6 separate regions of the Homo sapiens genome follow, and regions 2, 3, 4, 5 and 6 are each reported to be linked to region 1. The links are microRNA targets in miRTarBase. Many come from high-throughput screens and were not tested one by one. Region 1 holds a microRNA gene; each other region holds the end of a gene's coding sequence.
Evidence for each region. The annotated mature microRNA hsa-miR-371a-5p reads ACUCAAACUGUGGGGGCACU and lies in region 1 at 3,067-3,086, shown strand. An mRNA with a match to its seed (bases 2 to 7 or 8) in the 3' UTR can be bound and repressed. Matches are read on the target gene's strand: a 7mer-m8 pairs with bases 2 to 8, a 7mer-A1 pairs with bases 2 to 7 and ends in A, and an 8mer does both.

Region 2: the mRNA of BCLAF3 is a reported target of hsa-miR-371a-5p. Seed matches in the 3' UTR shown: 8mer at 2,399-2,406.
Region 3: miRTarBase lists MFSD11 as a target of hsa-miR-371a-5p. Seed matches in the 3' UTR shown: 8mer at 1,370-1,377.
Region 4: miRTarBase lists DCTN6 as a target of hsa-miR-371a-5p. The part of its 3' UTR that is shown has no 7-base or 8-base seed match.
Region 5: the mRNA of CEBPB is a reported target of hsa-miR-371a-5p. Seed matches in the 3' UTR shown: 7mer-A1 at 2,761-2,767.
Region 6: the mRNA of CYTIP is a reported target of hsa-miR-371a-5p. The part of its 3' UTR that is shown has no 7-base or 8-base seed match.

Annotation. Positions count from the first base shown.
Region 1 is chr19:53,784,614-53,788,702 of GRCh38, forward strand. It overlaps MIR371A (microRNA 371a), which reads left to right and starts at 3,062; the gene lies at 3,062-3,128. MIR371B (microRNA 371b) reads right to left here and starts at 3,129; the gene lies at 3,064-3,129. It overlaps MIR372 (microRNA 372), which reads left to right and starts at 3,277; the gene lies at 3,277-3,343. LOC124904767 (a long non-coding RNA gene) reads right to left here and starts at 3,612. Exons shown (of 2, transcript XR_007067336.1): 1 at 3,274-3,612; 2 at 2,409-3,146.
Region 2 is chrX:19,913,809-19,917,897 of GRCh38, forward strand. BCLAF3 (BCLAF1 and THRAP3 family member 3) reads right to left here. Exons shown (of 12, transcript NM_001367774.2): 12 at 1-3,526. The coding sequence ends at 3,497. Among named protein-coding and RNA genes, the nearest start is that of SH3KBP1, 28 kb to the left of the region's middle.
Region 3 is chr17:76,777,678-76,781,766 of GRCh38, forward strand. It overlaps MFSD11 (major facilitator superfamily domain containing 11), which reads left to right. Exons shown (of 13, transcript NM_001242532.5): 13 at 511-1,664. The coding sequence ends at 675. Among named protein-coding and RNA genes, the nearest start is that of LINC02080, 19 kb to the right of the region's middle.
Region 4 is chr8:30,182,431-30,186,519 of GRCh38, forward strand. It overlaps DCTN6 (dynactin subunit 6), which reads left to right. Exons shown (of 7, transcript NM_006571.4): 7 at 645-1,209. The coding sequence ends at 743. Among named protein-coding and RNA genes, the nearest start is that of DCTN6-DT, 28 kb to the left of the region's middle.
Region 5 is chr20:50,191,333-50,195,421 of GRCh38, reverse strand. It overlaps CEBPB (CCAAT enhancer binding protein beta), which reads right to left. Exons shown (of 1, transcript NM_005194.4): 1 at 2,754-4,089. The coding sequence ends at 3,351. It overlaps CEBPB-AS1 (CEBPB antisense RNA 1), which reads left to right and starts at 3,353. Exons shown (of 7, transcript NR_125739.1): 1 at 3,353-3,758; 2 at 4,000-4,089. RefSeq lists an enhancer at 1,324-1,885 and silencers at 3,250-3,359, 3,780-4,089.
Region 6 is chr2:157,412,013-157,416,101 of GRCh38, forward strand. CYTIP (cytohesin 1 interacting protein) reads right to left here. Exons shown (of 8, transcript NM_004288.5): 8 at 2,607-4,089. The coding sequence ends at 3,665. Among named protein-coding and RNA genes, the nearest start is that of CYTIP, 30 kb to the right of the region's middle. RefSeq lists an enhancer at 1,690-1,739.

The DNA of each region.
Region 1 (4,089 bases):
GTTCAGTGGCAGGATCAGGCCTCACTGCAGCCTTGAACTCATGGGCTGAAGAGATCCTCCCACCTCAGCTTTCCAAATTGCTGAGATTACAGGCTTGAGCCACTGCCTGCAGTCCTCTTTCAAATGCACTTAAAAATCGTCTTTGACTATACTCTTTGTTGAATGTTGATTAAATTCAATTGCACTAATAACATTTTTTATATTCAAAAATACAAACGTTGGCCGGGTGCGGTGGCTCACGCCTGTATTCCCAGCACTTTGGGAGGCCGAGGCGGGCAGATCACCTGAGTTTGAGAGTTTGAGAACAGCCTGACCAACATGGAGAAACCCCGTCTCTACTAAAAATACAAAATTAGCCGGCGTGGTGGCACATGCCTGTAATTTCAGCTATTCGGGAGGCTGAGGCAGGAGAATCACTTGAACCTGGGAGGCGAAGGTTGTGGTGAGCCGAGATCGAGCCACTGCACTCCAGCCCGGGTGGCTGAGGGAGACTCCGTCTCAAAAAAAAAAAAAAAAAGTCAGCAATGAACTCGCTGTGCTGGCCCAAGGGCAGGAGAAGAAAGCCGCCCTTAAAGGAGAAATTTGCAAAGACAAAATGAGGTGATGAGAAAAAGCCGAGTTCTAGGAAATACCCGAGAGATCATCCAGGTGGTTCACAAATAGCAGAAAATCCAGGTGCAGTGTGAGAGGAGTGAGTAGGTTAGATAGGAATCTGGATGGCTGAGCTGTAAGGACATAAGCACTGACCTCCCGCAACCTTGACAAAGATCAAAGCAAGAATTTTTTTTTTTTTGAGATGGAGTCTGGCTCTATCACCCAGGCTGGAGTGCAGTGGCGTGATGTGAGCTCACTGCAACCTCTGCCTCCTGGGTTCTAGCGATTCTCGCCAAACATGCTATTTGCTGTCTCATTTCTATCTCTCGCCATCCTTTGCAGCAAATGCTGTACATTTTCATTGATGAAGGAACTAGGTTTAACCAGAAAGGTTGAGCACGTACTCCCGCAGCTGGCTAGGATTACAAATGGGAAGGAAACCCTGGCCTCCTGGGGCCCCAAGTCTTCCCCTTCCTTGAGTCATTCATTATTTTGAGCACTTACCATTTTCAAGCCCCTCCTCACCTCTCCAACACCCACCTTTTTGAGTTCCTCTCTATGCCTCAAGGTCAAAGGAACTCTAGTGGTTTCATTAAATAAAATCAGAAATGTTTCCGCTTTTTTATCAAAGTTGCTCTCAAAAATGTTCACTGCCGCACTGTTTTTTTCTTTTCTCCCTCTCTTTTTTTTTTTGAGACTAAGTCTCACTCTGTCGCCCAGAATGGAGTGCAGTGGTGTGATCTCGGCTCACCGCAACCTCCACCTCCAGGGTTCAAAGGATTCTCCCACCTCAGCCCCCTGAGTAGCAGGGATTATAGGTGTGAGCCACACCGCACCCAGCTTTTTTATTTTTTTAAAATTTATTATTATTATTTTTGAGATGGAGTCTCACTCTGTCACCCAGGCTGGAGTGCAGTGGGGCGATCTTGGCTCACTGCAACCTCTGCCTCCTGGGTTCAAGCAATTCCCCTGCCTCAGCCTCCCGAGGAGCTGGGACTACAGGTATCCACCACCACGCCGAGCTAATTTTTGTATTTTTAGTAGAGACCATGTTGGCTAGGATGGTCTCGATCGCTTGACCTCGTGATCTGCCTGCCTCGGCCTCCTGAAGTTCTGGCATTATAGGCATGAGCCACTGTGCCCAGCCTATTTATTTATTTTTTGAGACACGGTCTCACTCTGTCCCCAGGCTGGAATGCAGTGGCACAATCTTGGCTCACTGCAACCTCTGCCTCCCGGGTTCAAGCAATTCTCTTGCCTCAGCCTCCCAAGCAGCTGAGATTACAGGTGCACACCACCATGCGTGGGTAATTTTTGTATTTTTTTGGTAGAGACGGGGTTTCGCCATGTTGCCCAGGCTAGTCTCGAACTCCCGGCCTCAAGTGATCGTCCGCCTCGGCCTCCCAAAGTGCTGGGATTACAGGTGTGAGCCACTGCGCTCTGCCAAAATACTATATTTAAATATTTGTTGAGTGGATGACTGGTGGAATGATTTTCTTCTGGTTATTTCTCTGTGTTTTCCAATGTATTTATAACGAATACATGTTGGCGTTACTAGTAATAGGGATCACCTAATTTCTATTTGAATCAGTGTTTGAAAAAGTTTATGAAGGTGTGTCTGACTAAGGCAAGCTAGGATCAAAGGGAGCAGGGTGGCTTGGGGCGGAGACCAGGGGGAATGAGAGGGTGGGAAGGGGTGGGCTTTAATCCTATCAAAGTTGAGTGGGCTCTCACCCTATATAAGAACGCAGCTGCAGTGAACCTTGTTCTTTCTGGCAGACCTGAGGTGTGGACGTATCATTGGCCTCTGTGAGTATTGCTATGTTATTTTATTTTCTTTCATTTTACTTTATTTTTTAGGGTCAGGATCTCACTGTCGCCCAGGATGAAGTGCACAGGTAGGATGATGGCGCCTTGCAGCCTCGACCTCCTGGGACTCACCCTTTTAGCCTCCAGTAGCTGGGACCACAGGCGCGCACCACCATTCCCATGTGCGTTTTTCTGCTTTTTTTTTTTTTTTTTTAGGAGAGATGGGGTTTTCTATGTTATCCAAGCTGGTCTCGAACTCCTGGGCTCAAGAGCAATCCTACCACCGTAGCCTTCCGAGTAGCTGGGACTACAGGCTTGAGCCACTCCGCCCAGCCGGGCTGTACTTTTGTTCTATTTCTGTGATTTTTTTTCAGTCTTAAGGACGAAGGCCCCACTGTCCCTCACACGTGTTCCTTCCTACTTGCATTGTACTCAGTCCTCATGGCTTGCATCTGGAGGCTATGGGCGGGGGAGTGCTTTGAATATCTATACGTGGAAAGCCTTGTTTTTTACTTTTTAAGAAAGGGTCGTTAAATTCGTGCTTTGTAGACCTTCAACAGCTCATCAAGGGCTACTCTCCACCTCCTTGCTTAAAAGCCTCTTCTGATGGGTAAGTGCTTCCACTTGCGATCGCCGCCTTGCCGCATCCCCTCAGCCTGTGGCACTCAAACTGTGGGGGCACTTTCTGCTCTCTGGTGAAAGTGCCGCCATCTTTTGAGTGTTACCGCTTGAGAAGACTCAACCTGCGGAGAAGATACCATTTTGATTGGGTGAGGGGGCGGGTAGCAGGATGGCCCTAGACCCTGCCTATGGCCGTTTCCTCGTGATATAAATTTCTTGGCCGGGGCTCTTGCAGATGGAGCTGCTCACCCTGTGGGCCTCAAATGTGGAGCACTATTCTGATGTCCAAGTGGAAAGTGCTGCGACATTTGAGCGTCACCGGTGACGCCCATATCAACGGATGCCGTGGAGCTCGGTCTTCTGCAGGAACTAAAGAGCCTGTGGTTTCGATTCCCAGCCGGAAACTGTCTTGGGTACAGGTCCCTTACAGCGTCTGGCTGTAATGGCTCCGGAAAACCTGGGGAAGGGAAGGGGGCCTCCTGGGCTCTCACCTGACACAACTAAGGGAATCTGGGTTAGATGGTGAAAGGAAGAGAAGGTTCAGAGGGCGGCTGTGCGCCTGCGCCGGGCGCGGCGGCTCACACCTGTAATCCCAGCACGTTGGGAGGCCGAGGCAGGCGGATCACGAGGTCAGGAGATCGAGACCATCCTGGCTAACACGGTGAAACCCCGTCTCTACTAAAAATACAAAAAATGAGCCGGGCGTGGTGGCGGGCGCCTGTAGTCCCAGCTACTTGGGAGGCTGAGGCAGGAGAATGGCGTGAACCCGGGAGGCGGAGTTTGCAGTGAGCCGAGATCGCGCCACCGCACTCCAGCCTGGGCGACAGAGCAAGACTCATTCTCAAAGAAAAAAAAAAAAAAAAACAGCAGCTGTGACCAAGGGGCTGTATGCACAAAGAAAGGAATGCTTTTTGCTGTTGGTGTTATAATTGATATGTAACTTTCCTCTTCCCCCATAGCAAGCAAGTTTATTGCTGACATTTAACATGTGCTTGGATGATTGGAGGCCAACCTCTTGTAGGCAAGAAAGTCACAGTGATGGCAGATCCTCGCGAGGAGCTCATA
Region 2 (4,089 bases), not on the chromosome of region 1:
AGTTCTTAAGTCTTTATCCCACTTTACCTCCTCCATGTCTGAATTTGTCAATGTACATTAATTTTTCTTTGTCAAGATTTATAACATTTACATACTATTCTACATCTATGATTCCTCAGTTCTTAAATGTTCATTCTGTATTTTAATGGACTCAGAGCTCATAATCATCCTATTTGACGGAACTTTGTTGGGGAACCTGGTATCCCCTCTCTTCTAGGTTCCCATTAAATGTCCAGAACCAGAACTCACTAGACACAGTCAAAGGTGTCTCTGACTTCTGCAGGATTTGGCTTTCCCAGGCTGCTCTGAGACCTGGGAAATGCCTAGTCCTGGTGAATCTTACCCCTTCTGCTGAGGTCCTGAGATGGAAGCAAAGACTTCGTTGTCCCAAGAGTTTTCCTTGACTCTCCTCCACGTGGCCTGGTCACCTCGTCAGTGCCTTTGTCCATACTGGGGCCCACTGTTACCAATATTTTTGTCATCTCCATTGTTTTACTCAGTGCTACTTCTGGGGATGGGCGAGGGATGAAGTCATACCACACCTTGTTGCATCAGCTTCTTCTTCCTTCCTTGCTTGGTTGTTCCTGGTGAATTTGTGCCTGGTGGTTACTGAATTTGCTGGGTAATAAAGACAATAAGAGTTTCTCATCCAGCTTTACTTTTCTTGCTTCTGCCTGGAAGTATCCCCGTCTTTTTTTTAAAAAAAAAACTATTCAAAAATGTAGGATTTATTAGGTAAAATGTGGTACATAGTATACATCTACATAAATTGTTACACATAAATGTAGCGAGTTTTTTTCCAATAGAAAAAAATGAAAATGTATCATCTAAAATATTTATAATAGTGTTCTCTGTGATAAGACTATGGGCAATTCTTCAAATTGAAATTTATGTTGAAGTAACTCTAGATTCACATGCAGCTATAAAAGAAATAATACAGAGAGATCCCGCGTACAATTTACCCAGTTTCCCCCAATGCATCAATTTTTAAAACCAGTAAAACCACCAACAGAATAGTGCCTTCTGAGGTTGGTGAAACCAATAGGAAAGAAACATGACGAGGGGATGCTGAATCAGAAATGTCAACTTTCCTCTCAACCTTTTGTATATATGTCCACTAAAGTACTTACTCTACATTGTGATTCTTTGTTTTTGTGAATCTCTTCTTCAGCAGTGCATGAGCTTCCTCACAGCAGGGACTGTGTCTTATTATCTTTGTCTTCCCAGTACCAGCGAAGGGCCTAGCACGTAGTGGAGGAAGGTGAGGAGGCAATGGTAGGGGACTTATCAAAAAAAAGAAAAAAAAAAAAAACTTCTCTTCTCAAGTCTTATGCATTCAAGAAGTCAAATTCTTTCCAGTCAATAAAAAATGCTATGGATAACCTTTTGTTCAATCTCCATATGAAAATTACACATGTAGTTCCTAATAAACATATTCTATTATTCCCTATTTATTCATTCATTATTCAACTAATATTTAATGAACTCTTACCACACGTCAAATAGGAAGCTGGGTGCTGGGGATACTATGGTGGACAAGACAGACACGGTCCCTGTCCTTATTTTATACTCTAAATTATAAAGTTGGTTTTTCCTTTTAGGCTTTAGATCTTATACACACAATGTTTTCTGCACAGGTATTTTGCAGATAACACGCTTTGCATATTGAGACAGTGCCAAAAGAATATCCAAATAGGGAATCAGTTGTGGAATGAATAATAGTAAATCAGCCATCTTACCTTTATGTGTTACAATAAATAAAAAGCGAGCTATAAAGGCGATTTACCAAGTTATATTTCTGTTTAATGTCCATTTTTCCTATTAGACTCTTCGTACCATAAAGGCAGGGTCCATGTGTCTTGTCTTCTTGTTCATTGCTGTAATTTTAGTACAGTATCTGTGCAATACATAGTTGTCAATCAAATGATTAAATATTCAAAGCTCATTACTGTCCCCTAGAATATGGGAGTAAATGAAATCAATTATTTTAAAATTTAAGACAGATTTTATAAGTACCTAACACAATATAAAGTTGCCATACTACCTGTGTGCATGCATTTCTTTCTTACCATAAGTGGAATGCTAAATATGTTTGGAAAACCTGACCTATAGAGATTGTACACAGTACAAGACAGGCCATCTACCCAAATTTATTACCTGCTTAGCAATGAATCAAGTGCACTTGCCCCCCTTATCATGAACTCACTTAAGGAAAAGGCTGCCCTCTCTTTTAAAGATATGGACAAGAAAACTGAATGTACTAAGATTTTTCACATCCAGTCATGAAAAACCAAGTTCTTATCAACCTTCACATTTTAATTTTGAAAGCTCTGTCTTTGTAAGCACAGAACAGTGCTTTAAACACTGTTTAAACAGAGGTGCTATCCAAGGCTATAAGTCTCAAACAAAATTAAAATAATGCTCTCACAAACTGGCAAGTAACTTATTTAAGCAGAAAGAGCAACAACATTTTATTTTATTACAAATAAACATTTCACAAAAATGTAATTGGGAATGTATATGTACTGTTAAGCAGAACACAGAAAACATAAAGAAATAAGGTATTGGGGCCTAAAAATTTCATTTAAAAATCCCATCCATTTGCTCTTACACATAGTAGGTATGCAATACATATCAACTGAACTAAAAGTAAACACTCTATAAGATGTGCTTGCAAAATGTGTAATGCTGTAGTAGTAAAGTACAATTTTCAAATATGAGATTTTGTTTGTCAGATTTTTAAAAAGCCTTTAAAAATATGATATGCACAAGCTTGCCCTGAGGGAAAAATAAGATGGACTATAGATTACAAAATCTTTACATATTTTCCACAATAGCATTTTGAAATTGGAAAAGAGCAAATAGTTGTGGAAAAAAACTGAATGAACATATTACTAAAAATTCAGTGCACTCACAACTACCTGATGGAATATTTGAAGCACCTTGTCTCTTGCCTTCTTATAATATGAAATGTATGAATTATATAGGCCTTGATCTTCAGAAACTTAAGAAAACTTCGAGTTATAAGCCAAAATGTCATCAGAAAAAGAAAAATCTGGTATAAAATTTTCTACCATAAGGCCACTGTTTAAAGTTCTTTCATGTAAAGACACTATACAATTCAGACACTTGTTTTTGTTTTTATTATGTAAGCAAAACTTTCAACATATAAACGTCTGAATATTACTTGGTGAAGTTCTCTCTATGAAACCATGCTCAGAGAAAAATGCATCAACAAATAATGCCCTTCAAGTGATTCTTTTGAGACTTTTTGCAAAGGAAACTGTAGTTAATACAACTTTTAAATTGAATACTGTAATTTAAAAGCAATTGTTAGGTGTAAAAAAGTTGCAGCATTCCACTACTAAAAAATAAAGTTATTTTATCAAGAAGTTACAGTATTAGTGCCTTAGTGTCACTTCTAACTCCTGACAAAAAGAGAGAGATGCTCCCAAACATCCTCCTGTAGCGTCATTTCCATTTGTACGATTTCAGATTAGATTCCTGTGGCAACATCTGTATATTCCTATTGAGAGAAAACAAGAGAAATAAAGACTTCAAACAAAGTGTCAAACATCTGAGCTAGTTTTGTTTACACTGCAATTTTCAAAGTATTTTCGTTTATACAGTGTTACTTGCACCCCGAGATTCCCACGAAGGCATGTGGAACCCCAAAGGCGCAAAGTAACAACAGAACACATCAAAGCAATATCGCATGATAAATCAATAGGACAAAGAAAACATGTGGTGCTAGATAACATTGATATTAGTAAATTGATGAAAACAGTCTTCTGCTATTTGGGTGAGTTTCAGTGAAGGCATCCCTGGCATAAAATCAAGACTCTTAAACCTTTGGCTCTCAAGTACGGAGCCTGACACTACACACGCACACCTCAAATTAGTATTTTATCTTTTCCACCCTATATCTCTAATTCTAAAACTACATGGGCTCTTTTAACTGACTGATAACTGCAGAGAAAGTTATTAGAGGGGGAAATGCCTTCTTACTTTTGGATGGTTGACTACAGTATAAAAAGGTGTAAGGCTTCAATAAATACAGGAAGAAGAATTTACAAGAACAATGAGACT
Region 3 (4,089 bases), not on the chromosome of region 1:
GTAAGATTTTTTGTGTAACAGATTTTATGTTCTGGTCTCTATGGCTCTGATTAGAGATTTCCTTCCTTAGATACCAGAATTCTATTCATTTGTAATACAGACAAGTGTATTTCTTACTCTGTACATTCTTGTTACTCCAGTTTTCCACAAAATGCTATTTTTGTTTCATTTTATTTTATTTTGTAGAGATGGGGTCTTGCTATGTTGTGCAGGCTGGTCTTGAACTCCTGGGCTCAAGCATTTCTCCCACCTTGGCCTCCCAAAGTGTTGGGTGGCATGAACCCCCACACCTGGCCAAAATGCTATTTTAAATACCAGGAACTGTGGCAGGAGTTTATGGTGCATGTTTGTGAGTCAGTGACTGAGGAAGTCATACCTTGATGCAGAAAGAATAGAAAGCACTGTGAGTTCCAGGTGTCCTTGGGGCAGGATAGGAGTGGGGCTAGGGGCTAACTGTGGCTCAGTGTGGCCCCCGGTGCGCCCGTTGTGATTTGTTTTGTTTGTTCTTAGTCTATTTGCGCAGCCGTGGCATTTTTCTACAGCAACTACCTTCTCCTTCACTGGCAACTCCTGGTCATGGTGATATTTGGGTTTTTTGGAACAATTTCTTTCTTCACTGTGGAATGGGAAGCTGCCGCCTTTGTAGCCCGCGGCTCTGACTACCGAAGTATCTGATCTGGTGTCCGTGAGGGGACACGTATGACCTCAGAAACACAGCTGGACACAGAGCTTGGTGGAAGAAGTCGCCTTTGATCTTCACTATATATTGGGTGATGTTCAGTATGGAAAATCAAGGGATTAAGACTGTTAAATCAGCCAGAGTTGGTGTTCAAGTTTACAGATATGAGTTATTTAAAGCAAGTAGAATAAGGGAAAGCTGTTCTGTCAACTGTAATTGTTCAAAGATGTTGTTTTTCATTTCATCTATCTCAATTCTTATAATCATGTTATAGAATGTAAATGTTTTCTTCTCTCTCCTGCTCTTGTTGGAAGATCCTGCCTTGATTTAGAATACTAGGCCATATGTCATATAAATATTTTTTCTGGATATGGAGTATGTTTTGCCATGTAATAATGGGAAGCATATGTCATTCCCCATATGTGTTGGAGAATGACATTTAAATAAATAGCAAAGCTGGGTGTGGTGTTGCACCGCTATACTCCCAGCTGTTGGGGAGGCTGAGACAGAAGGATCACTTCAGCCCAGGAGATTGAGGCTGCGGTGAGCTATGATCACACCACTGCACTCCAGGCTGGGCAACAGAGTGAGACCCTGTCTTGAAAATAATAATAGGCTGGTCACAGTGGCTCATGCCTGTAATCCCAACACTTTGGGAGGCTGAGGTGGGTGGATCACCTGAGGTCAGGAGTTTGAGACCAGCCTGGCCAACATGGTGAAACCTCATCTCTACTAAAAATACAAAAATGTGTTGGGTTTGGTGGTGCATGCCTGTAATCCTAGCTACTAGGGAGGCTGAGGTAAGAGAATTCGCTTGAACCTGGGAGGCGGAGGTTGCAGTGAGCCGAGATCGTGCCATTGCACTCCAGCCTGGATGACAAGAGTGAAACTCCATCTCAAAAAAAAAAAAAAAAAAAAGAAAAGAAAATAATAATGATAATTTTTTAAAATAATGAAAAATAAATAACAAGATGCTGAAATGAAATATTGATTTTGAAAAGATGTCTTCCTCTGTAAATGTTTCATTTGATAAGTTTTCTTACCTTGTAGCTCATAGCAAGGAGTGGCCAGTTAAGTATTATGAAATAAGGTAAAAATTGTCATAAGTCTTTTTTAAAATTTATTTATTATTTATTTATTTATTTAGAGACGGAGTCTCACTCTGTCGCCTAGGCTAGAGTGCAGTGGCGTGATCTCAGCTCACTGCAACCTCTGCCTCCCGGGTTCAAGCAATTCTCATTCTTTAGCCTCCCAACTAGCTAGGATTACAGGCATGTGCCACCACACCTGGCTAATTTTTGTATTTTTAGTAGAGATGGGGTTTCACCATGTTGGCCAGGCTGGTCTGGAACTCCTGACCTCAGGTGATTCACCTGCCTCGGCCTCCCAAAGTGCTGGGATTGCAGGGGTGAGCCACCATGCCCGGTCCTTTAAGTCTTAAGAACAGGGATCTAACATCTGTAACAACAAAAACATTGAAAAAGACAAACATATTTACTGAGGGAGGACTTTTGCTAGCAATTTTCCTGGAAGATGCAATGCAGAAACCCCCAAACAAACCTGGAATGAGATCTGAGCTGCGTCATCAGGCCAGTGTCACACCGTCATTTATGTGTCCTCCTCGAGCAGTGCAAGTCTATCATCCTGGGTGCGGGAATGGAACATAACTATTTGGGGAGATGTTAAATGGAAGTGTTAGCTTCCCTCCATAAGAGCTCACTTAAATTTTTTTTTTAAATTGAAATCAAATCCAGAAACCATAAAAATGTCCCATTTTAAAGTGTACATTCACAAGGTTGCATAACCACCACAATGATCTAATTCCAGGACATTTTATCACCCCAAAAAGTAGTCGCTGCCTGTCAGCAGTCATTCTTTCTCATCTGGCATGGCAACCACGAATCTACTTTCTGTCTCTATAGATTTGCTTATTTTGAACATTTCATGTAAATGAGACAGCTCAGTTTTGTTTTTTTTTTCTTTTCAAATTTTTAGTAGAGACAGAGTCTCCCTATGTTGCTCAGGCTGGTCTTGAACTCCTGGGCTTAAGTGATCTTCTTGCCATGGCCTCGCAAAGTGCTGGGGGGATTACAAACAAGAGCCACCGTGCCTAGGAAGAGCTCACTTTTGTTGTTGTTGTCTTTTGGTTGTTGTGTATGTGTTTTTTTTTTTTTTTCAAGACAGCGTCTCACTCTGTTGCCCAGGCTAGAGTGCAGTGGCGCAATCTTGGCTCACTGCAACCTCCGCCTCCCAGGTTAAAGCGATTCTCCTGCCTCAGCCTCCTGAGTAGCTGGGATTACAGGCATGCACCACCCCGCCTGGCTAATTTTTGTATTTTCAGTAGAGACGGGGTTTCACCATGTTGGTCAGGCTGGTCTCGAACTCTTGACCTCATGATCCGCCTGCCTCAGCCTCCCAAAGTGCTGGGATTACAGGCGTGAGCCACTGCGCCCAGCGGCTCCAGATTTTGAAGTTCTGGTTTTCCTTTTTGAAGCTGATATAACCTCCATTGGCTTAGTTGATCCTATATAAATAATTTACAAATGCCCTTTTAGACTTAACAGTAGTGATTTATTATCTCTTTAAGCACATTATTTATCAAGGTGTATTAGTTTTCTAATGTGCCATAACAAATTACCTCAAAACGTAGCCACTTAAAATAACACACATCTATTTCATCACAGTTTCTGTGGGTCGGGAATCTGCGCATGGCTGAGCTGAGTCCTGAGCGTCTCTCCAGGCTGCAGTCCATGTCTCTGCAGGCTGCAGTGAAGGTGTGTTCCAGGCTTCACTGGGGGAGGGCCTGCTTCCCTGCTCACTCGTATAGTTGTTGCAGGAGTCAGTTCCTCACAGACTGTCAGGCTAAGTAAGGATCTTGGTTTCTTATGGCTATTGGCTAAAGATCGCCCTCTGCCCTTCATCATGCTACGGAGTAGTCCTCAGGGCAGCCTACGACATGGCAGCTGTCTCCATCAAAGGTCACAAGCAAGGACAGCTGGAGAGAACGAGAGCAAGACAAAAGCCGCAGTCTCTCATAACTTCATCACTGTTGCACTCTGTCTGTTAGGTGCCAGTCACTAGTTCCAGCCTATTCTCAGGGAGGGAATTGGTGGGGAGCATCTTACAAGGCTGCCCACCTTGTCACCTGTCACACTGAGACTTACATGGAAGGTGACAACTGGGTCCTGTATTCCCAAGCCTCGCATTCTCCAGGCCCTTGCTCTGTTTGCTCATAATGGATCTGTACAACCCTGCTGGCAGAAGGAGGTGAAGCCACCTCTGTTAATGACACTGAGAATTTTAATCTGAGGAAGCCATGGCATCTTGTCACCCCTAGGATTCCTGGTGATTATTGTCAAAAGGGAAAGGAAATGAAGTGAAGTGCTGTGTGCAGTATGGCAGGAACCCAG
Region 4 (4,089 bases), not on the chromosome of region 1:
CTGGGTGTTTTACTTATGTGGTCTTCTGTAATCGGAACTTTTAACTTTTCAGAAGCCAGGGTGAAATCTACAAAAGCGAGTTTTAAAACTGATTTCTGTATATTTTTATATAAATATATAAAATCTGTTGGCTTTTTCTTGTAACCAAACTTAGTATATGTTCCTTATAAATTAAAAAAAAAAACAAGCATGTAAGCAAAAATGAGTCAATGAAAAGCACCTGTAATTCCACAACTTATTAATAACCATTGCTACCTGGAACTTTTTTTTTTTTTTCTTTGAGACAGGGTCTGGCTCTGTCACCCAGGCTGGAGTGCAGTGGTGTAATCATGGCTCACTGCAGCCTCAACCTCCTGGGCTCAAACAATCCACCTGCACCCCTGCCGCCCTGCTTCCACCTCAGCCTCCTGAGTAGCTATGACTACAGGGGTGTGCCACCACACACAGCTAATTTTTAAATTTTTTTAGTGACAAGATCTCCCTATGTTGCTCAGGCTGTTCTGGAACTCCTGAGCTCAAATCATCCTCCTGTCTGGGCCTCCCAAAGTGCTGAGATTACAGGCATGACCCACCACGCCTGGTTGCTGTGTGGTACTCTTGACTTTGCTTTCTGCCAATCGGCCTTAATTACCTTATCTTTTTAGCCCCAGACACTACAGCTGGATTTCTTGATGAAAATCTTGCCAAATTACCACCACCTAAAGAAGACTATGAAAGGAAGCTCAACTCCAGTAAAGAACTAAGAACAGTGTATAACATGAAGATAACATTTTGTCTTTGACCACTGTCTTTTGAATGGGCCCACAGTGTTTATGTACTCTTAACAACTCACAGAATAATACATGTTCACTTTATTTTGTAAAATTGGGTTGAGAGGAAACTAATGGAGTTTCATTGTAACTGTCCTTTGTAATTTATATAAATGTATTATTTTCCTATATCCTTGGTTCTTTTCTGATAATTTACAGATTTAGCTTTTCTTTTGTTATATAAACTGCTAGCCACAAATTTTAGTTATGTAAAAGGCTACCCTTGACAAGAAAAGACATACTGTCATGTATTTATATTCTAGCATAGACTAAACTGAATAAAAATGCTGATAACAGGACCTTTAGTAAGCATACTTTAATCAGTTTTTCTCCTTGAATTAATCTTTTCTCTTAATTTTTATTATGTACTAGTTGTATTAAAGCTAATGTGTTTACTTTTTCCTCTTGTGGATTTGTAGCTGTTTAAAATTTCAGGTGAATTTCAGTAGCTATTGAATTAATTTAGACTTCACTTTGTTTTTAAGAAAAGTACAATTTTTTCTTTTTGGTAAAACAAAAGTAATCAGGGAAAGATGTTTTCAGTAGAATACAAATTAGTGGCATTCTTGGGTTTCTGAGGACAATGAAACTAAAAGAAATTTTGAAATTATACAAATTTATGAAATTATTAATATTTTAGCATAGTGCTAATCACTAATCATTGAGCTTTATTATTCTGTTGTCTATGTAGTGAGCAAAATGTTGAGAATTTTATAATTCCAAATTTTTAAAATAATTCAAGTGCATAAATTTACTGGAACATACTTCTCAACTTTTGAATTAGTAGATATTGACTAATACTAAGATACTAAAATACTAAGATATTCTCTCAAAATTTAATTTTTATTTATTTATTTTAGAGACAAGGATCTCACTCTATTACCTAGGCTGGAGTGCAGTGGCACAGTCTGCTCACATGGATCACTTGACCTCCTCAAACTCAAGTGATCCTCCCGCCTCAGCCTCTTGAGTAGTTGGGACTATAGGCATAAGCCACCATGCCTAGCTTTTTTATTTTTTTTAACTTTTTGTGGAGACAGGATCTCGCTGTGTTGCCCAGGCTGGTCTCAAACTCCTGACTCAAAATTTAATTTTTAATTGTGAATAGAAAAAAATATATTTTTGAATTTCTGAAACTGACAGTGCAAATTAGCGTAATCATTCGAAATTGGAATGATTTTGGTAAGAATACTCATGACTAAACTTGGAAAACTATACTGTAGCAGATGAAACATTGAGCTTTTGAAAAGGAGAACATAAATACCCTATTTCTGTTAACTGCTATTTATTCATTTTTCAACCCCCTGGTGATCAGTTCAGAATGTTGTTGATCATGGAAATTTTCTAGATAAAAGAAATGAGAAATTACAAGACAGTCTTTGAAATTCTTTACTGGTTCTAATGTATTCTCTTTGGACAGGCTCTGATATGCTAAGTAAATGGCCTCTCCAAACTACACAGGTACTATGTGGGGCAGCAGTGAGATACCTTCTAAGGACTTGATAAGAAGAAACCACCAGAGAGTCTACACATAGTGAGGAGAGTCTCAATGCTTCCCAGGTACACTGTAGGTTATTACATGATATTAACTCATTTGAGAAAAGAAAACCGAAATTATCAACTCACCAAAATGGGGTTTGAAGAAACAAAATATGACAGTGTGTATACAGTGTTATCCGTGAAAAGGAAGTCCTGCATCCAAGAGATGTGAGTAATTCAGTGACCAAAAGTGTTCTCTACTTCAGTTAGGACTAGTTTATCAAGACCCAAGGTATGTGGCTTAGGGAGAACATACCTTGAGACTTGCCACTTCTTTTGGCACTAATTACAAGCCTAACTGAACCATCTTCTGATTGTTGATATGGCCTTTTAAGCTATTGTTGTTCAGGAAAAGGGAGAATTCTGCATGAGGGCACCAACATTTCATTCTGCACATAGTAAATTTAGAGAAATTCTCTGGTTTATATGTCAGTCTCATGTGAATTTTGTGTGTGTGGTTCTGCCCCCAAGTTTGTCAGTTTAGCCTATGAGTTTCTAAATATTCTGATGAAACATAGTTTCTGATTCTTCAGGATAGAGAACCAAAGCCCGGACAGATTATTGCAAACTTCACTCTTTGGGGCTTCTGCATAGCCAGGCTGTCAGCCTTCTTCTAGTGGCACTCTATCTCACTTGAGACTACACTCAAACTGCATCCCAAATATTCTAGACAAATAAGCTAAGTGGTAAGGAGAACCCAGACATCCATGTGACATGAGGTAGTAACTGGGCAGGGAAAAGAGAGAAACCATTTTATCAAATCATCTTATTGCAATCTGGCACTAGCTCTTCGGGCAAGATGATGGATCTTCACCAGTTGAACAGTGTAAGGTCTAGAAACAGTGATGAAACTTCACTTCATCCATAAGCACACACTGTAGTAGTTATGTATGCTGTGTAACAAATTACCCCCAAAACTAAAACAACACACATCTTATTAGCTCACTCAGTTTCTGAGAATCAAGAATCTGTGTGTGGCTTAGCTGATGCTGGGGCTGCAGTATTCATTTCCAAGATGGCACACTAACATGGTTGTTGCCCGAAGGCCTCAGTTCATCATCACATGAGCCTCTCTACAAGGCTACCTGGGTGTTCTCTTGACATGGCAGTTGGCTTTCTCCATAATGAGTGATCCCAGAGAGGATGGAAGCCACAAGGCCTTTCATGACCCAGTCTCTGAAGTTGCACACGATCATTTCCAATGAATTTGATTTGTTAGAAGTGAGTCACTAAGTCCATTCTACACTGAAGGGATGGGGAATTAAGCTGTACCTTTTGAAGGCAATAGCATCAAAGAGTTCATGCTCATATTTTTATTTTTTATTTTATTTATTTATTTATTTATTTATTTATTTTGAGACAGAGTCTTGCTCTGTCACCCGGGCTGCAGTGCAGTGGCACGATCTCAGCCCACTGCAGCCTCTGCCTCCCAGGTTCTAATGATTCTCCTGCCTCAGCCTCCTGAGTAACTGGGACTACAGGTGTGTGCCACCATGCCTGGCTAATTTTCGTATTTTTAATAGACAGGGTTTCACCATTTTGCCCAGGCTGGTCTCGAACTCCTGACCTCGGGTGATCCACCTGCCTCAGCCTCCCAAAGTGCTGGGATTACAGGCGTGAGCCACTGTGCCCAGCCCATGCTCATATTTTTAAACTCCAGCATGTATGTACACATCCATTTACATCTGGGTTTCTCCCAGTGCACTATCAGCATCTCTTTAGAGAGTCTCCACACTGGGAG
Region 5 (4,089 bases), not on the chromosome of region 1:
GTCCTGAGCAAACATTAGTTGGGGTTCCAGGCTCCCACCTCCCAGCTAGCCTCAGTGGTCAAACACACTAAATGGGTCTGTGGTTAACATGACCGGCTTTCTCCCACATATCTAAGGACCCAGCACCTCCCTCTGTGCCAAGGGCTTGGAGTGGTGCTTTGCACATCTAAGCCCTTGTCTCACACCTGCTATTATCATGATTCCTCAAGGCTCGTCCCTGGCCTCCTGGGCTCGCCTCACCCCATCCCACCCCCTCCTGTTTCTGGATGTCGGAATGGACTGGTTCCTCCCTGCGAGCCCTTCACCCTTGCAGCTTGGTGAACTGTGGGGTTGGTGTTGCCCTAACTATGACATCTCCCCAAGTCCTTTGGGCACAGCTCCGTCCACAGTGCTCCCATACCAAGCCACCGTCAAAGCCCTCAACCTGTGAACTGCTTCTCCCAGCCCTCCTTAGAGGCAGCCCAAGGGGTTCAGGTTCAAATTCACTTTCTGTTGCTTCCAAACTGTGAAACTGATGTTTGCAGTTCTGGGGCTTGGAGTGCCTGAACTTGAGGTCAGGCAAGGAGCCCTCCAAGAAGAGCCTGGGATTTTAAACAGGAACTGGGATTACAAACCAGGCTCCCAGCCCCAAACTTTCCCCATAGACTTGGGAGTCGGATGGTTTTGTAACCTGCTCCACCTAGCCCACCTTGAGCACAAACCTCACTTCTGTGGACCTCAATGTGTGCTTTTAGAAATGGGTCTAGCACCTTCTGTGGGGTACTGTGGATGAGAGCAAGATGTGAGTGTGTGAAGAACTGACTCAACGCTGGTTCCAGGACAGCACTGGGGAAACAGAAGCGAAGCTGTGGGGCAGACGGGGGCGGAAGAGGGGCACCGTCTGGCCAGGCTGCTTCCCTCTCACCTCATTTGGGTGAGCAGTGGCCACCAGCCAACTCTTGGTGACAAAGGAGGGAGCAGGGATTTGAGATTTGTTCCTCAATTTCGACCCTCTCCACCTCCCTCCTTCCCTAGGTCCAGCCCCTCAGCCTCTGCCTTCAGCAAGTAAATCCTTGAGGTCAAGCCCACATTGCTGTCGCTGCTACTGACAGAAACCATCGAGACCAGTGGGGCTTGGGACTGAACTGACTTCGAGGCTTTGAAGGCATGCCCGGCCAGTTGTCCAGTTGCCCAGGGCTGGGAGGGGACGTGGTCAGGGCCACGCTGCAGGTCCCAGGTTGAAGTGAGGTTATCTGTGTCCAGCAATCTGCATAGCCCTCGAGCCACCATCAGGAGACACTGGCATTAGGGAGGTGGAGCTTATAGGAATCCTCCGCTTTGTGGCGGTGGGGGATGAGTGTCGCTGTCTGTTCCCCACATCCCAGGCTCCCACAGGGAAAGCACAACCAGGCCCCCAAAAGGAAAAGGAGGGGCAAAGCATTTCCCATTCGCGAACCACGGTATCAGCAACTGCTCCTGAGATCCCAGACCGCCCCAGGTCCTTGGCAAACCAGGCTACGATGCCTGCTGCCCCTGAATTCCTCAGGGCAGGGCAACCCCCAACCAGTGTCTTGCCCATAGGGATCGGACAGCCCAAAGCTGCTCCCCACCTCTAAAAACAGGCGTCATAACAATCCCCACCTTCCCAAAGGTTATTGTGAGGTCTAAATGGGATGGGGCAGGTCCAGTGTTTACCAGATGCCGGCCCCTGGCAAGTACTGGCCACACTGGCGCTGCACTGGAGACTGGGGTGCCAAATGCCAGCAGCTTCCCAGCAAAAAATAATAACAAGAGCAAGCGCTTATATAACACTTCTTGCGTGCCAGGCACTGTGGGACGCTGTACATGTATCCACTCACATCCATCTACATCCTCAACTCTCAGGAATGCCATCCAGGGCTGGATGGGAGTAGGGGGTGCGGTGAGAAGCCGGAAGGGGCAAAGGGATCAGTGGGCAGGGAAGAGGAGCCTGTCCCAGGGAATCAGGGCTAGCAGCCCCACGTTTGTGCCTGGGCTCAGCCACCTTGAGCAGGCAGGTGAGGTGGGCTCAGTGTCCAAGTCTGGGCAAAGAGAGCAAGTGATGAGCCTCCCATCCTCAGGAAAGGTAATCAAAGTGTGGGAACCCCTCCCCCACCTCTCTCCACCTGGCCTGGCCTCTCCCCTCCTGCTGGCCAGGGACACACAAACACAGACTCGCCCACACACCCAGGCTCCCCTCTTTAAAATACACATGTATACACAAACTGTGTTTTAAACAACCCACCCCACTACACTGACCAAAAGCATCTGCCCTGACTCGGGCTCAGCAGGACCAAGACCTGAACCCCCTCCTCCTACAGTCACAGGCCTGCCTACCTAGTCCCCAAACACAGGGCAGGGGTCACAGACCTCCCAGCCCTTCCAAACCCAAGCCTGACACTCGGGACCAGCCAGAGGCTCCGGAATCTCTTCTCAAGCAGGGTTCCCAGCCACCCGTCCCGGCGCCTAGGGGCTCTGAGTCAGCCTGAATGCCTGACCCATTACTCTTCTCCCCTTTCCCCCGGGGCTGGAACCCCATCTCAAGCAGACCCTGTGTGTGTGGGAGGGGGAGTAGCAGAGGAGGCAGAAAAACCAGCTGCAACACCCCCACCCAACCACCAAAACCTCCAAAAATAACAGCAGCCCCCCACACACAACCCCCTACACACCAGAAACGCAAAAACAAAATCCTACAAATCCAAAATAAAGTAAAAAAATAAAAAACAAAAGCCAATTACTGCCCCCAAAAGGCTTTGTAACCATTCTCAAAAAAAAGTTTATTAAAAGTGTTCTTAATGCTTGAAACGGAAAAGATTCCCAAAATATACAGACGCCTCTTTTCTCATAGAAATAGATTATTTTTTATAATACAAAAAAAGACCAAAAAACAAAACAAAACAAAACATCAACAGCAACAAGCCCGTAGGAACATCTTTAAGCGATTACTCAGGGCCCGGCTGACAGTTACACGTGGGTTGCGTCAGTCCCGTGTACACACGCGTTCAGCCATGTTTAAACCGATTGCATCAACTTCGAAACCGGCCCGCCCGCCGGCGCCTGGAGAGGGGCAGAGGGAGAAGCAGAGAGTTTATCATTCATCTGTACACATAGACGTTTCTTCTTTAAATAACACCACGGGCGGGAGCCCCATCTGCATGTGCGGTTGGTTTGGACAAAAATATAGATATATATATATAATAAAATATTAAAATTACCGACGGGCTCCCCGCGCTGCCAAGTGCCCCAGTGCCAAAGTTTTGCCGGCGCCGCCGGGGGCGGGGGCGAGGGCGCGGGCGCGGGCGCTCCCCGGAGTCTCAGCCCCGGCCGGCAGGGGGACGCGCGCGGGGGCCGCGCTAGCAGTGGCCGGAGGAGGCGAGCAGGGGCTCGGGCAGCTGCTTGAACAAGTTCCGCAGGGTGCTGAGCTCGCGCGACAGCTGCTCCACCTTCTTCTGCAGCCGCTCGTTCTCGGCCGTGAGCTCCAGGACCTTGTGCTGCGTCTCCAGGTTGCGCATCTTGGCCTTGTCGCGGCTCTTGCGCACGGCGATGTTGTTGCGCTCGCGCCGGATCTTGTACTCGTCGCTGTGCTTGTCCACGGTCTTCTTGGCCTTGCTCTTGACCTGCGAGGGCGCCGGCGCGGCCCCCGCGTAGCAGGCGGTCGGGGGCGCCTTGGCGTCAGCGGGGCTCGGCGTGCCGGGCGGGCTGGACGAGGAGGACGTGGAGAGGCTCCCGCTGCTGCCGCTCGGCACCGCCTGGTAGCCGAGGTAAGCGCGCAGCGCGTACGGGAAGCCCGCCGCCATGCCTGCGCCGCCGCCCGGCGCCCCGGCCTCCTCCTTCCGCTTGCAGTCCGCGGGCTCGAAGCCCGGCTCCGCCTTGAGCTCGGCGGGCGGCGGCGGCGGCGGGGGCGGTGGGTGCAGGGGCGCGAAGCAGCCGGGGTGCAGCGCGCCCTTGGCGGCCCCCAGGCGCCCCAGGCTCACGTAGCCGTACTCGGCCGGCTTCTTGCAGTTCTTGCCCCCGTAGTCGTCGGAGAAGAGGTCGGAGAGGAAGTCGTGGTGCTGCCCGGAGGAGGCGGGCGCGGGGGCGGGCGCGGGCGGA
Region 6 (4,089 bases), not on the chromosome of region 1:
CTTCATTACCAGCCTTTAAGAATCAAGCTGCCATGAATTGTATGGCCACCAGGTAATGATTCTGACAGCAACCTGAAGGAGCTTAAAGGTTGATCCTTCTCCAATCAAGCCTCCAGATAACAACACCAAAATTGCAGTAAATTGCAGGTTTGTGAGATCCTGAGCAGATCCAGCTAACCTGTGCCCAGACTCCTGGCCCACAGAAGCTTTGAGATAATAAATATATTTTAGGCTTCTAAGTTTGTGGTTATTATTTATTTATTTTTATTTTATTATTATTATTATTTTTTGAGATGGAGTTTCACTTTTCTTGCCCAGGCTGGAGGGCAATGGTGTGATCTCGGCTCACTGCAATCTCCACCTCCCGGATTCAAGCGATTCTCCTGCCTCAGCCTACGGAGTAGCTGGGATTACAGGCATGCACCACTACACCCGGCTAATTTTTGTATTTTTAGTATAGACGGGGTTTCATCATCTTGGTCAGGCTGGTCTCAAACTCCTGACCTCAGGTGATCCACCCACCTCGGCCTCCCAAAGTGCTGGGATTACAGGTGTGAACCACCATGCCTGGCAGTAATTTGTTAAATAGCAATAAAAAAGCTAATAGTGCAAAGTCTCAATTAAGTAAGTAGTGTCTTTTAAGGTCCTCAAAGAAGTAAATGTTGAGAATCACCCAGGTTTTTTAAAAAGTCTGCTTTTAAGACAATTATTTCTTTATGGTAGAGAGAAATGTAGGGAGAGAGAGAGAGACAGAGAAAGAGAGAGAAAGTCCTGACACTGAAAAATAGCATTCTTTATTTCATAAAGGCATCAAATTTTGATTTTGTAGCCCATAGGTATGTAAGGAAATGGATATAAAATAACAATACTTTTATGATCTGAGGGGCTCAATATAGTTATGTATTACTTACTATTTTTAGTATGTATACATTCAAAAATGTCTGTACTTTGGTGATCAAGACACACATACTATTTCCAAGTTTGATCTATTCAGCGCAAACTGGGATTTTAAATGCTATCTGTATCTTAAGATATAAAATTATTACAAGGTAGAAAGTCATAAATAAAAGTTCACTTCCAAAAATATATTACTAATCTGTTTGTCATGGTTGTGTTCTTCAGCCACATGATAAAGTAATTCCCAATCTACTTGATTCAAATTTGGTTTATCAAATGCCCTTCTAGAAAAATGCATTTTCATAACAGGTTGTCAATTAATGGAATTCACCAGTAATACATATTTGAGAACTTTCAAGTTAAAAAAACACTTTTCAATTTTTTCCCTAGTAAATTATATCAGAATGAATCACTATGCACCAGAAGTTTCTTCTAAAGCCTGACTGAAGTCATAAATTAGTCTGAAAGTTATACTGTGAGAAATTTACCCACATTTCTACTAAACAAAAGCTAATTTTCTTACAGCTTGTGAAATATAGAACATGACATACCCTTCCTTCCTGTACTTTGGTTAACCAGTACTTTTTTCTTTATTCTCAGAACATACCTCGACTCTAATTCTTACCGCAAACTAAAGTGATGCTTGCTCCGTCCCTTCCCTGCCCCTTTTTTGCATTTGAGGTCTACTGTCATACAGCAGTGTTACACTTCTGTATTAAAATCACAAGAAAAGCAAATGATCTATGGTCTGCTTTCCCGTATGACCTATGTCATTCTGTGTAGTTCTCAAAGCATTTTTTCACCTTGTAGAAGATTTCAAAGTCATCTTTCCTCAAATAAATGTGGTGTTTCCTTCCCCTGGACTTTGTGAAATAGGATAACAAGAAATGCTGAATTCATATAAGTAGACCTTTAACAGGATGATTCTAGACTATGATGAGAAATAAGCAATACCAGTTGAATCATAACTGGTTTGCAAGCTCTTGTTGAAAATAAATGCACTGCTAATCATGTAGTTATTAAAGAACCTATGTCTGAAACTTGTATATGAGGAACAGAGAAATGTTTGTTTTCCTATTTACCCAAAGAAATGCTCTTATCTGTGCAGCATCTATAATTGTACATTTTAAGTATTCCTGTTGGGTGGAATAAAAAGTACTGTGATGATCACTAAACAGAACCAAAAGAGTAAAAGATATCTGGAATAGACTAGAGCAAGGAAGAACTGGCTTCCAATTTTAGCCCTGCCACTGACTAGCCTTGTGACCCTGAGAACATTTCCAAATTCCTGACTTGTTATCTGTATGCCTAACACCTACTATATAGTAATTGTGAGGATCATACGTAAAGTGTCTTTAGCCAACTAGGTACTCAGTAAATGGTAGACAGTATTGCTATCATTTCTGTGAAAGGTGTGACACCCTGCCTTTCATATGAGTGACTGTCATGCACAGGCCACTGGATGTTTCTCAGTTCAAAGAGTTAATAGAAGGCAAGTCCCAACTAGAAATCTTTTCATACTTTATCATTTCTTTCTCATCTTAGATGCTTCCTTACCCTACCCTCTTTTATCTCAAAATAACTCATTTCTTAAGCAGAAGTTTAATTAAATTTAGCAGCTCTACTTAAATTGAAGTGTTTCTATTTCTCCCAAACACACACACACACGCACAGAGAGAGAGAGAGAGAGAGAGAGAGAGAGAGAGAACTTAAAATCAGCAGACTATTTATTACATAGTCCAGATTGTCTACTCTAGAATATAGGTTATGAATAGCTGTGCCACCAGAACAGAGAATTCATAGACTTCAATGGATATTAAATAAAACATGGAGTAATTGAAAGGCTAGAAGTAATGTGATACTAACATAACCAATAGGCAAAAGACTGCTGAGGTGATAGCTATTTAGAATATAAGATATAAAGTGAGAAGTAATATGAAAAAAACTACAGGAGGGAAGTCCTTTTCCCAACCCTCAGTTTTGGATGTTAGACATTTGTAGAAAAAAAATTACAAAGCTGTAGGATTCGGAGAGTTCTAGACTTGCCATTAATGTTCAGGCAGAACAAAAGCTGAATTGGGCAAAAAACACGACATCCCCACCCATTTTGTTTAGACTGTCTATAAAAATGACTTTATTATGATCTTTGCAGCACCCATCTCAGACCACATCTTTCCATGGTTCTCATGAACCTTAACCCCTCCTATTAAATCTTATACTTCCCGCTTTATTGTCACTATAGATGTGAGAAACAGCTGATGGTCATCTTTGTTTACAAGCCATTACAGGTTTGAACAAATTCAAAATTGCCTATTATTAAGCCTCCGCAGGAGCTACTGGGCATAAGCAAACCTAAGATTTTATAACCCAGCAATTATCCTATAGAAAATAGTCCAGATTATTATATTCTGCCACACCTTTATTCATACTTGACTCCAAAAAGTTCTCAATTATTCACAGGGATAATCTAGAAAATAAATATTAGTTTTGCTTTCAAAGACATTACTGGAATGAGCAGGAACCTGCATCTTTGTTATATTAATTAACTTATTATTTAGTTTTCCTGTCTGCTTAGAAATTGGCTGTTTAGGTTGAAAAATGATTTAAGAAGCATAAACTATAACACAACAATTTAAATAAAGGTCACTATTGCTGTGAAATGGGATGTCAGTTTTGCAATTCTTCTGCACTTTCCCACCAAGCTGGGATCTGGGTGAGTCTAGAGATATTTGTGAAATAAGCTAATTTGAAAGGACACCACAATCCGTCAAAAGCGACTTTCTTCCTCTTCCACAGCACGATGAAGGCCAGGGATAAATTTCAAGAGTTGCTTTCGGACACTTCCCTTTCTGCTCTTCCGGGGCAGGGTCCCAAACATGCTTGATAAGTTGCCCTCCCACAAGGGAGACATGGATCCGCTGCTGGTGTTACTGATGCTCCGGTTCCTCCTTGAAGATGACCTCCTCAGAAAATCATCCCCCTCCTTGGGGATAAAGCACTCATCATCTGTACTCGTCTGCCGACTGAAGGCACCCCTGCTGGAGTCCTCAGACACACACGTCTGGTAGCCATCTTCACTGTCCATCGTCATGGAGCTCAGCCAGCTCTTACAGCTGCTCTCACTGGATAATCGATTCCGGTCCACAAGGGCTGGGCCTGGCCCAGGCAGGGGTCCAAACAAAGACAATTCAT